2 linked regions of the Homo sapiens genome follow. The protein of the gene in region 1 purifies or fractionates together with the protein of each later gene. This does not show direct contact. Each region holds a gene or a part of one and is shown on either strand. Other genes may lie near its edges.

Region 1 (5,219 bases):
GATCTAGAAGTCAGGAAACCCAGCTCTTGCTCCAGTTCAGCTTTTCAACAGTTCCGTGGCCTTGCTAGGGCACAATTCTCTGGGGTTCAGTTTCCTCATAAGCCAATCTGGAAAGGTTTCCCCTGCATGGTCCCTTAAAAGGTGGCTTCACCTGAAGCATGCACCTGAATCATGAACTCAAAAGCACTCTAAAAGGTGAAATGTTAGGCCGGGCACGGTGGCTCAAGCCTGTAATCCCAGCACTTTGGGAGGCCAAGGCGGGCGGATCATGAGGTCAGGAGATCAAGACCATCCTGGCTAACACAGTGAAACCGCGTCTCTACTAAAAATACAAAAAATTAGCCGGGCGTGGTGGCGGGCGCCTGTAGTCCCAGCTACTCAGGAGGCTGAGCCAGGAGAATGGCATAGACCCAGGAGGTGGAGCTTGCAGTGAGCTGAGATCGAGATCGCGCCACTGCACTCCAGCCTGGGCGACAGAGCAAGACTCCATCTCAAAAAAAAAAGTGAAATGCCAGACAATGCAAATGTCTGGCTGACACTAGCCATGTACCCTTGGGCAAAGTCCTTCCCTCTCCCTGTGAAAGTTTTCCTTATCTGTAAAGTGAGGTTAATTCCTCTTATTGGAAAGGAAAAGTTGTCAGGAGAACTAAGTGAGATACGAGATATAAAATGCTAGGAATAGTACCTTGCCTATGGCAAGTACTCTATAAATATTGGCTGTAACCATTACTGGGTAAACAAGGATGGATCATTACTCTGTCCATTTACTCTGAAAACTTTAGGACTCCCCTTGAAGAGCCACAGATCTTTAACATACAGTAAAACGGGACCACCAAGAGGAATTTTCCTGCTCGGGGCAAAACAGGCAGTTGGGGCCACTGCTGTGCCTACCTGGCTCTTCTCCAGGGGCACCTGTCAGAGCCACAAGGAGCATTTGGAACACATGCATGCCTGACCCACCTGCCCATGCGCTGATTCAGCAGATCCCAGGTGGGGGGTCTGTATTTTTAGCAAGTGTCACAGGAGACTCTGATGTGTGTCCCTGGCTGAGAGCCAGTATCTACCGGTTGCCAGGGTCTCTGACTAACCCAGGGCTAGAAGGCAATTCAGCCAAAGTCCCCTTGGCCCCTCTCCCCACCGTACCTGACTGGCTCAGTGTTTCTGCAAGCCTTAGAGGACTCATGCCTAGGATCCAGTTTTCTTCTCTAGGGGTAGTTCTATGTGACGTGAGTCAGAAAACCTGGGTCTGCTGTCTCTACCTGCAGGCCCCTGTTCCTGTGAAAGAGGGGTCCTAGCTCTATTCTGCTGCGGGAACAGAAAAGCTGGGATCTACTATCCAGGAAGCCTTCCGCAGGCAATTTGAGCCTTTCCATGAGTCTGCTTGGCTCTCACTGGGATTGGGGCCATATTTGTTCCCTGGGAACAATGCAGATGGGAAAGTGCAAATTCAAGAGGATGGAAAAAGCTGTGGCAAGAAATAAAAGAAGGTATAGAATAAAAAGAGAGTAAGAGCAAAGTCTGATTTGGGGGGATGGGGGTGGGGGAAGGACTAGAGCACCTAGGAGGGAAATGGAAATGTCAGATCCACTCAGAGATCAGGTTCAAGGCTAACTCCTAGAATAGCTAACATAAAACAGGGCATACACACTTTTGCCTAGAGGGAGGCTGTGGCGCTCACTGGAGTACCCTGTGATAACAGATCCTGGTGCAGGCATACTCAGACCTGAAGGGCTGGGCATTTTGCCAGACAAAGAAACTCCATTCTATTTGGTCTCTGGTCCAGAGATGCTTCCAGTTTTAAGTCGTCAACTTATCCACTTTAATTTCTAGTACTTTCTTTGTAAGATTTGCGTGTTAATGTGCTCATCTGCATCCCAGTTCAGAACTACTACTCCATTTCAGAAAAGTGAGGGAAATATGTCAGGGCCACACCCAATCCCACGTCCCAAAGACAAGCGAGTTAATTCCATGCTTCCCAGAGCTGGCCAGACTAAGACAAGATGAAAAGCAGATCAATGCTGCTTTTGTACTTTCTCAATGTTGTACCCCAAAACCACAGGAGCAAACAAATAGCTTAAGAACATCTATTTCTCTTCAAACCCCATTTTCTTTTTCCCCCTCTTATTAAAATTACCTAAAAGAAACCTCAATCTCTCTGAATTCATTAACTCTCAAAGCAGACAGTGAGAGAATGTAGCATACAGTTGTCCTGAATATTCGTTATATCCATATTTGAGAACCTCTAAGGAAGTTTAGACTTTAGAGACTCACAGGGGGCACATGCCTGGCCTTCTCCCACCCCCAGATGCCCAGGCACCAGACAGAATGGCCAAAGTCCCACAGCCCAGGCAGATAACAAATCACATCCCAAGTCACATGACACAAAGAAGGGGTCTGTGCAGCAAGGCTGTTTGTAAGCCTAAGAGGTTGATCCTTCCAGAAGGCCCAAGCCCCCACAATCAGTGTCCCCTCTGACCCCCGGCCACCTGTCTTGAAAAATAAAACCCACAAGACTACGTGCTGTTTACACTGTGTCCTTGGGGGAATGGAGGAGGGCGAACAGAGTAGTCTAACTATGTAAAGAGGGAGGACATTAATATTTATCAAGCACCTACTAAGTACCAAGTATAATAGAAGGGTAGATATCATTATTACTACTTTATAGATAAGTTACTCAGAATACTAAAGTGATTTATCAAGTCTCATTGCAAATAGGAAAAGAAGGTATTTGAACCCAGGCCTGAAGCAATTTTGCTTCAGAAACAATGCTTTGAAGTAACAATGTAAACTTTAACCACCATCCCTGACCCTGGTCCCCACTCTGTCCAATCTAAGAACCAAACTTACCATGATGGGAATAAAAGACAATACCCCAAATTACCCAAAAGCTAGCAGAAAAAAAAAATTGTAGGAGGAATTGGAAGGGAAGCTATGTATTGATATGTACACACATACACACAATCCCATATATATTTACATATTGTCTTTCTTTTCCATGCTTATTTACAAACACTTTAATTCTTCACAGGTTGGGAGCATCAATTCACGTTGGCTAGAAATGTGACTTCTTTAGTATTTACCATTTTAACAAAATCCATGATAAGGGATTTGGAAGGTCCCATGGAAAGGATGAAATGACACCTCTCTGCTACCCAGTTTCTTTAAGACCTCTACGGTTGAGAAGAGAGGACAAAGGAACACCCCCACCTCTGCCATCCTCCGAGGGATTTTTCACAGCAATTCCAGTGCTGCTCAGTGGAAAGCTCTGCAAGTCAACTGCAAACCCCCAGCCCCAGATGTTAGGCATTTACAAACTTTGTTGCTGATTTATCAGCGCTCCTCTGCAATTTTGGGGACAGGAGCAAACACAAGCTTAAGTCACCACGCAGGCTGCAACCCTTACCCAAAGATGGGGGAAAAACTCCAAAGGAGATGCAGGAGGGAGCCTCAGCAGTCACTGTGAGAGCACAAAGAGGCCAAGACCCAGGGTAGGCAAAGGAAGGTGAGAGGCACCAGCAGGGCAGGAGGAGGAGCCAGCTATAAACATGCAGGCTTCCCGCCCCCTGCATAGCAAGCTATGGAAGGAAGCTCCAGCAAGATTCATGTCTAAGCTTTTCAAGTTAAAGGCTTGCCTACATCTACAGTGAACGGTGTCTGAACAACTTTTTGAGGGAATAAGGCAGAATTTCTCCCTTATGCGGATAACAAAAGAGCTAGCCATCCTGAAAACTTGCCACATCGTAATTTTCAGAGATGGTCAGTCTCTCAGAAGAATCCTTGCAATTAGCTATCAGAACCTGTCCAGTTCGGCATGTGAGAAGGTAATCCAGGGCATCATCGAGAGGAAGGGGCATCAGGATTCATGGACAACAAAAAAATCTCTGATTCCTCCAAAAGGCGTGTGGGTCACTGAGCTCCGGAAGAGGCTGCCTCCACCAGGTCTCATTTCACGTTGGGAGGTTACAGCGTGGGTCTTGTTTCCTTGGCTTTCCCCCATCTAATCCCAAAGCCAAGGTCACAACCTCTTAGCAATGGGGTGACAATCTCATATAGAGCTGCAATCAACAGCCATTCTTGCCAAGCTGATATTAACATTTCTTTTTTCTTTTTGATGTTACACACAATCCTGTCCTTGCTGTACCAGAAAGCCATTTCACCCATCTGTCTGGGAAGATGATCCAATTTTGGTGCTTTTATCATCAATGCTTTCAGCAACTTTGTTCTACTTCCCCTACTGTAATTACTTTTGAATCATCAACGCACCCAGACAGCCTTAAACCTCAGAGAACAGAATGCTAAAAAAAGAAAAAAAAAACCCGCAATGGCAAGTAACTTCACTAAATAGCCACCCAAGCTAGGAGCAATTTGTTTCTTTCCAGAAATTTACTTATTAATAATAAGTACCTCACACTCCTTCTTCCCCTTTTTCCAAAGGCAGGCAAGGCATGGAGATGGGATGTTGTGGAGAGGACGGAGTGGGGAGAAGAAGGAACTCCAAAAGGAGCCAATTAAAACATCTGCTTCCCCAGTCCCCCAGCTTTTGTTTTTTGTTTTGTTTTGAAGACGTAGGTTTTGTTTGTAAATGATGTGGGACTCAGAAAGTTGGTTTAGTGGTTGCTGGGTGCCTAAGCAGCCCAGGAAGAAAGTCTGTCTTCTCTGGAATGCAATCAAATTACATGGGGAGGGGCCGGGCGCGGTGGCTCACGCCTGTAATCCCAGCACTTTGGGAGGCCGAAGGGGGCTGATCACCTCAGGAGTCGAGACCAGCCTGGGCAACTGGCGAAACCCCTGTCTCTACTAAAAAATACAAAAAAATTAGCCAAGCGTGATGGCGCGCGCCTGTAATCCCAGCTACTTGGGAGGCTGAGGCAGGAGAATTGCTTGAATTTAGGAGGCGGAGGTTGCAGTGAGCTGAGATTGCGCCACTGCACTCTAGCCTGGGCAACAGAGTAAGACTCCATCTCAATTAAAATAAAAAATTACATGGGGAGGGAGAGACCCAGTGGCTGCTGGCTTAAACCACACACACAAAAAAGGAGAAACATTAACTCCAAGAAAATCCAACACCAGCAACTTAACACTGTCAAGCCAGTTGCTTTGCTTTCTGCTGTTATCTATTCTGTAGCCTGCCATTCACCCTGGTGGATGAAACTTCCAGCTCTGATTTCTAAGATGCCCCGGCGCAGTCCAGCTTTCCCTTACTCCTCGCGTGGCCCCAC
Region 2 (5,219 bases), on another chromosome or scaffold:
TAGGTATTAATCTCTACATCCTCCACAAACACCTCCACCACCAACAGCAGCCCCTCCTCCTGGCTCAGCAACCTACCCTTTTCTCCCTGGGACTCCCTGTCTGCTGCCAATGGAGTTGAAGAACTGGAATGATGACACAGCTCCTCTTCTCTGTCAGGAAAAAAGGAACAATTTAGTCTAGAAAGGCTTCTTGGCTGAAGTATTAAATAATTTCTCACACCCTCCTAACTACCAAGTGGCCAATGTCTAAAACAACCATCATTTAAGATCTCAGTATGCCAGGATAAAAAAAGTCAACAGGAAATTCCAACAGAATGAAGGGAGGCTGTTCACAGAGGCCATGAAGACAGCTTTTGTCTTAAAACAAGCACAAAACAATAATCTTCAAACCTTACTTACAACCTATCAAGTCCCTGGGAGTTCTAGACACAGATGTGATCCCTGAGGGAGTGGCATTCCAGCCAACTGCAAGCACCTAGGGGGTCAGCTCGAGTCAAGAACCTGAAGGCGACTGCCCGCTGACTTGACTCTCTCTGCTCTCCACTCTGCATGGCCTCTGTGCTTGCACCCGATCCCTCATGCTGGAGTGGGAGGCGACAGCCAGAGGCCACTGGAGTCAGTATCCAAGACTGTAGGGATGACAGCACTTCGGGTGGGTACTGCATTGTACCTCTCAGGGACTTAAGTTTCTTTGATTCTCCAAGTCACAGCAGCACAAAGCCTAAGAGCCAGGTTCGTTTCCCACCTTTCCTCACCCCCGCCTGTCCACGCAGCAAATGAAAACTGCAGGAGAATGCCAAGTACCTTATTTTCTTTGCTGGCCTCTCCGGTGTCTGGGAGCGGGAGGAGGCTGGGCTAGAGAAGGGTGATGAACTGGGGCCATTTCTCTTCCAGAGCTAAAAATCAAGAGGGACATGACTGAGCCTGCTGATAACTTAGCATCTGACCCTCAACACGACAAAGTCTCTTTTCAAGTGACTAAAAAAACATTCTTTATGGTTAAATGGTTAGTCATGCCTGTAATCCCAGCATGCTGGGAGGCCAAGGTGGGAGGATCGCTTGAGCCCAGGAATTTGAGCCCAGCCTGGGTAACATAGCGAGACCCCTGTCTCTACAAAAAAACTGAAAAATCAGTTGGGTGTGGTGGTTTGCATCTGTGGTCCCAACTACTCAGGATGCTGCAGTGAGCTGAGATTGCCCCACTGCACTCCAGCCTGGGTGACAGAGTGAGACCCTGTCTCAAAAAAAAAAAAAGAAAAGAAAATGAAAAAAATTTGTTTGTGAAGAAAGACCCCTGAAAAGAAAGTCAACTGCCAGTATTAATTATGAAAGCAAAAGAAGAAAAGTCTATAAAAGTAATGGAATGCGAATAAAGGTAGAAGGGATGGACACACTTTTGCATATATTAGGTGGAACGTTAGCCTCAGTAATGAAGAGCCAGGACACATTCAAACCTGTGCCAGACTGTCTACGGAGAGGATAGAAGTAAATTAAAGAAGATAACCCAGTAAACTAATTTAGTCTTGCTTCTATTAAATTTTCTATTTTAATTTACTAACTTCATTTTAAAAATATGCTGTCGTAACGTTTATGACTTTTGCAACAACGATGGCATTTATCATCATGTGATGATTATCCATACATCTGCCTCTTCCACCAGGTGAGTTCTTGACAGCAAAGACGGTGTTTTCATCTCTGCTTCCTCCACAGACCAGCAGCAAAGTAGATGGCACAGAGCGGACACTGCAAATAGTCTCGTAAGTGCTGAGCCTAATTACAAAGCCACTAAACTGTCACCTCAGACCGTCTTTCCTACTTGAAAAGCTGCTAGTGATTTCTTACCCAGTACCAGCTACATCATATAAGTACAAACAGGAAGCCAGCAATGCTTAATAAGAGTTCAAAAAGGGAAAAGAGGAAGCTTCAGACAAGTGGTAAGCAGCAGAACAGTTCAGTGAGGCCACCATCAGGAAGCCGGGCCCAGGAGGAGCTTGAGAAGACTGCTCACGGCAATAACAGTTGAAGTTACGCTCAAACAGCAAGAAAGGCCAGAGCACAATGGTTTAAAAAACATGGGATTACAGGCATATAAAAGAGCAGAATACAAAAATTCATCAAAGGGATCCAAGGATTGAATATATAAGCGGCATTTTCAATCACTTCAGATCCCTGACACTACCTCACTGGTTCTCAAAGGACGGCTCAGTCACCTGTGGAACTTTTTTTTTTTTTGAGACGGAGCCTTGCTCTGTTACCAGGCTGGAGTGCAGTGGCGCGATCTCAGCTCACTGCAACCTCCGCCTCCCTGGTTCAAGCGATTCTCCTGCCTCAGCCTCCCGAGTAGCTGGGACTACAGGAACATGCCACCACACCCAGCTAATTTTTGTATCTTTAGTAGAGACAGGGTTTCACCATGTTGGCCAGGATGGTCTTGATCTCTTGACCTCGTGATCTGCCTGCCTTGGCCTCCAAAAGTGCTGGGATTACAGGCGTGAGCCACCACACCTAGCCACCTGTGGAACTTTAAAAGCACATAGATGGCCGAGTGCGGTGGCTCACACCTGTAATCCTAGCACTTTCAGAACTGAGGCAGGAGAACTGCTTGAGCCCAGGAGTTTCGGACCAGCCTGGGCAACATAGCAAGACCTTACCTGTAGTTAAAGTAATAAAATTAAAACAATAAAAACCATAAACCTTGCATTTTTCTTCACAATGTGCTCCAGACACTGAGGGATACACATCACTGAGCAAGCAAGGGTCAGAAATGCCAAAGGGGCCAGACGAGGTGGCTCACACCTGTAATCCTAGCACTTCAGGAGGCTGAGGCAGGAGGATCACCTGAGGTCAGGAATTCCAGACCAGCATGGCCAACATGGTGAAACCTCATCTCTTCTAGAAATACAAAAACAAGCTGGGCACGGTGGCTGACGCCTGTAATCCCACCACTTTGGGAGGCCAAGGTGGGCGGATCACGAGGTCAGGAGATTGAGACCATCCTGGCTAACATGGTGAAACCCCGTCTCTACTAAAAATACAAAAAATTAGCCGGGTGTGGTGGCAGGTGCCTGTAGTCCCAGCTACTTGGGAGTCTGAGGCAGGAGAATGGCTGGGAGACAGAGCAAGACTCCGTCTCAAAAAAAAAAAGGAATACAAAAATTAGCCAGGTGTGGTGGTGCATGCCTGTAATCCCAACACTTTGGGAGGCCAAGGTGGGAGGATCACTTGAGCCCAAGAGTTTTGAGACCAGCCTAGGTAACATAGTGAAGTCTCATCTCTACCAAGAAAAAATAAAGAAAAAACAGAAATGCCAAAGGAGACTGTAATGATTAGCTAGGACTGGAAGACAACTGAACAACTGGTTTAACAATTAGGGGAAAAAAGTATTACTCCTCTACTTCATTGACTGTACATACACACTCATTTCAGATCTAACAAGACAAGGATGTTTATTATCATGTCTATTCAACTTAAAGTCCTAGCCAAGTGCAGCAAGACATAAACAGAATAAGATTGCAGAGGAAAGGAAAAACTCATTATCATAGACCTGAGTGTATGTACTAAAATCCTAAAGAACATACAGATTTAGCAAACTTTCTGAATACAAAATCAGTTGTATTTCTACACACCAGCACAGCCAATCACATTTTGAAGGCACTATTTAGAATAGCATATATGAAGGCACTATTTAGAATAGCATATACCTAGGGCCAGGCGCCGTGGCTCACGCCTGTAATCTCAGCACTTTGGGAGGCAGAGGCAGGTGGATCACCTGAGGTCAGGAGTTTGAGATCAGCCTGGCCAACAAGGTGAAACCCTGTCTCTACTAAAACTACAAAAATTCGCCAGGTGTGGTGGCACGTGCCTGTAATCTCAGCTACTCGGAAGTCTGAGGCTGGAGAATCACTTGAACCCAGCAGGTGGAGGCTGCAGTGAGCCGAGATTGTAAATCTAATAAAAAAGAAGTAAAACCTCTACAGAGAAGAAATAGAGATGATGTAAATAAATGAAGGAGGCAGGACATGGTGGCTCACGCCTACAATCCCAGCACTCAGGGAGGCCAAGGTGGGAAGATTGCTTGAGCTCAGGAGTTTGAGACCAGCCTAGGCAACATAGTGAGACTGTGTCTCTATTATAAGTTTTTAAAAATTAGCTAGGTGTGGTGATGCATGCCTGTGGTCCCAGCTACTCAAGAGGCTGAGGCAGGAGAATCGCTTGAGCCTGGGAGTTCAAGGCAGTAGTGAGCTATGATCATGTCACTGCACTCCAGCCTGGGCCACAGAGCAAGACCCCTTGTCTCAAAAGTTAAATAAATAAATAACGACATTCCATGTTCATAGATTAGAAGTAAACAAGGTCAATATTGTAACAATGTTAATTCCATCCAAAGTAATCAGTAGATGAAAGGCAATCCCAATCAGTATCTCAGAACTTTTTTTTTTTTTTGTGGAAATTGACAAGTTGATCTAAAAATTATATGAAAATGCAAAAGGCCAAGATACAAGACAGTCCTGAAGAGAAATGAGAAAGTGGGATGACTGACTCTATCAAGACTTAAAGTATAAGGCTAGGGGTAAAACAAAGACTGGCACAAGGGTAGGTAGAAAAATAGACCAATGGAACAAAACAGAGTCTAGAAATGGACCCACATATATACAGACACTTAAATTAGACAAAGACGGTGCTGCAGAGAAATAAGGATGGTCCTTTCAATAAATGTTGCTAAGAGAAATGGGTATTTCTACAGTAAAAAACAACAACAACAACAACAAAAACCACCAACACCACCAAACACAAAAAAAACTAATTTTGATTCCAACCTCACACCATATACAAAAATTAATTTCAGGTGGTTTATGGATTTACATATAAAAGTAATAATAAAATAATAAAGCTTCTAGAAGGTAGCACAGAAGAAAATTATCATGACCTTAGGTTAGGTAGGCAAAGATTTCCTGAATACTACACAAAGTATGCTAACCACAAGGAAGTAGAATGGCAAGAGCAGGACACTTTTTTGTTGCAACACATACATGACAGACAGCTTGTATCTAGAACATATAAAGAGCGTATTCAAATCTCTAAGAAAAAGACAACAACTTGGGGCCAGGTGTGGTGGCTCACGCCTGTAATCCCAGCACTTCGGGAGGCCAAGGCGGACGGATCACCTGAGGTCACGAGTTCGAGACCATCCTAGCCAACATGGTGAAAACCCATCTCTA

What was found.
Region 2: the proteins of CTDSP2 (region 1) and POM121 purify together in Homo sapiens (affinity purification with mass spectrometry; 3 studies listed by BioGRID and IntAct, with this or other methods). This does not show direct contact.

The regions. Positions count from the first base shown.
Region 1 is NC_000012.12:57,839,231-57,844,449, forward strand, and holds part of CTDSP2 (carboxy-terminal domain RNA polymerase II polypeptide A small phosphatase 2), read right to left. Parts: intron 4,532-5,219; exon of another isoform or gene 3,029-4,531; intron 1-3,028. UniProt on the Homo sapiens protein: Preferentially catalyzes the dephosphorylation of 'Ser-5' within the tandem 7 residue repeats in the C-terminal domain (CTD) of the largest RNA polymerase II subunit POLR2A.
Region 2 is NC_000007.14:72,934,267-72,939,485, reverse strand, and holds part of POM121 (nuclear envelope pore membrane protein POM 121), read right to left. Parts: intron 897-5,219; coding exon 805-896; intron 151-804; coding exon 77-150; intron 1-76. UniProt on the Homo sapiens protein: Essential component of the nuclear pore complex (NPC). The repeat-containing domain may be involved in anchoring components of the pore complex to the pore membrane. When overexpressed in cells induces the formation of cytoplasmic annulate lamellae (AL).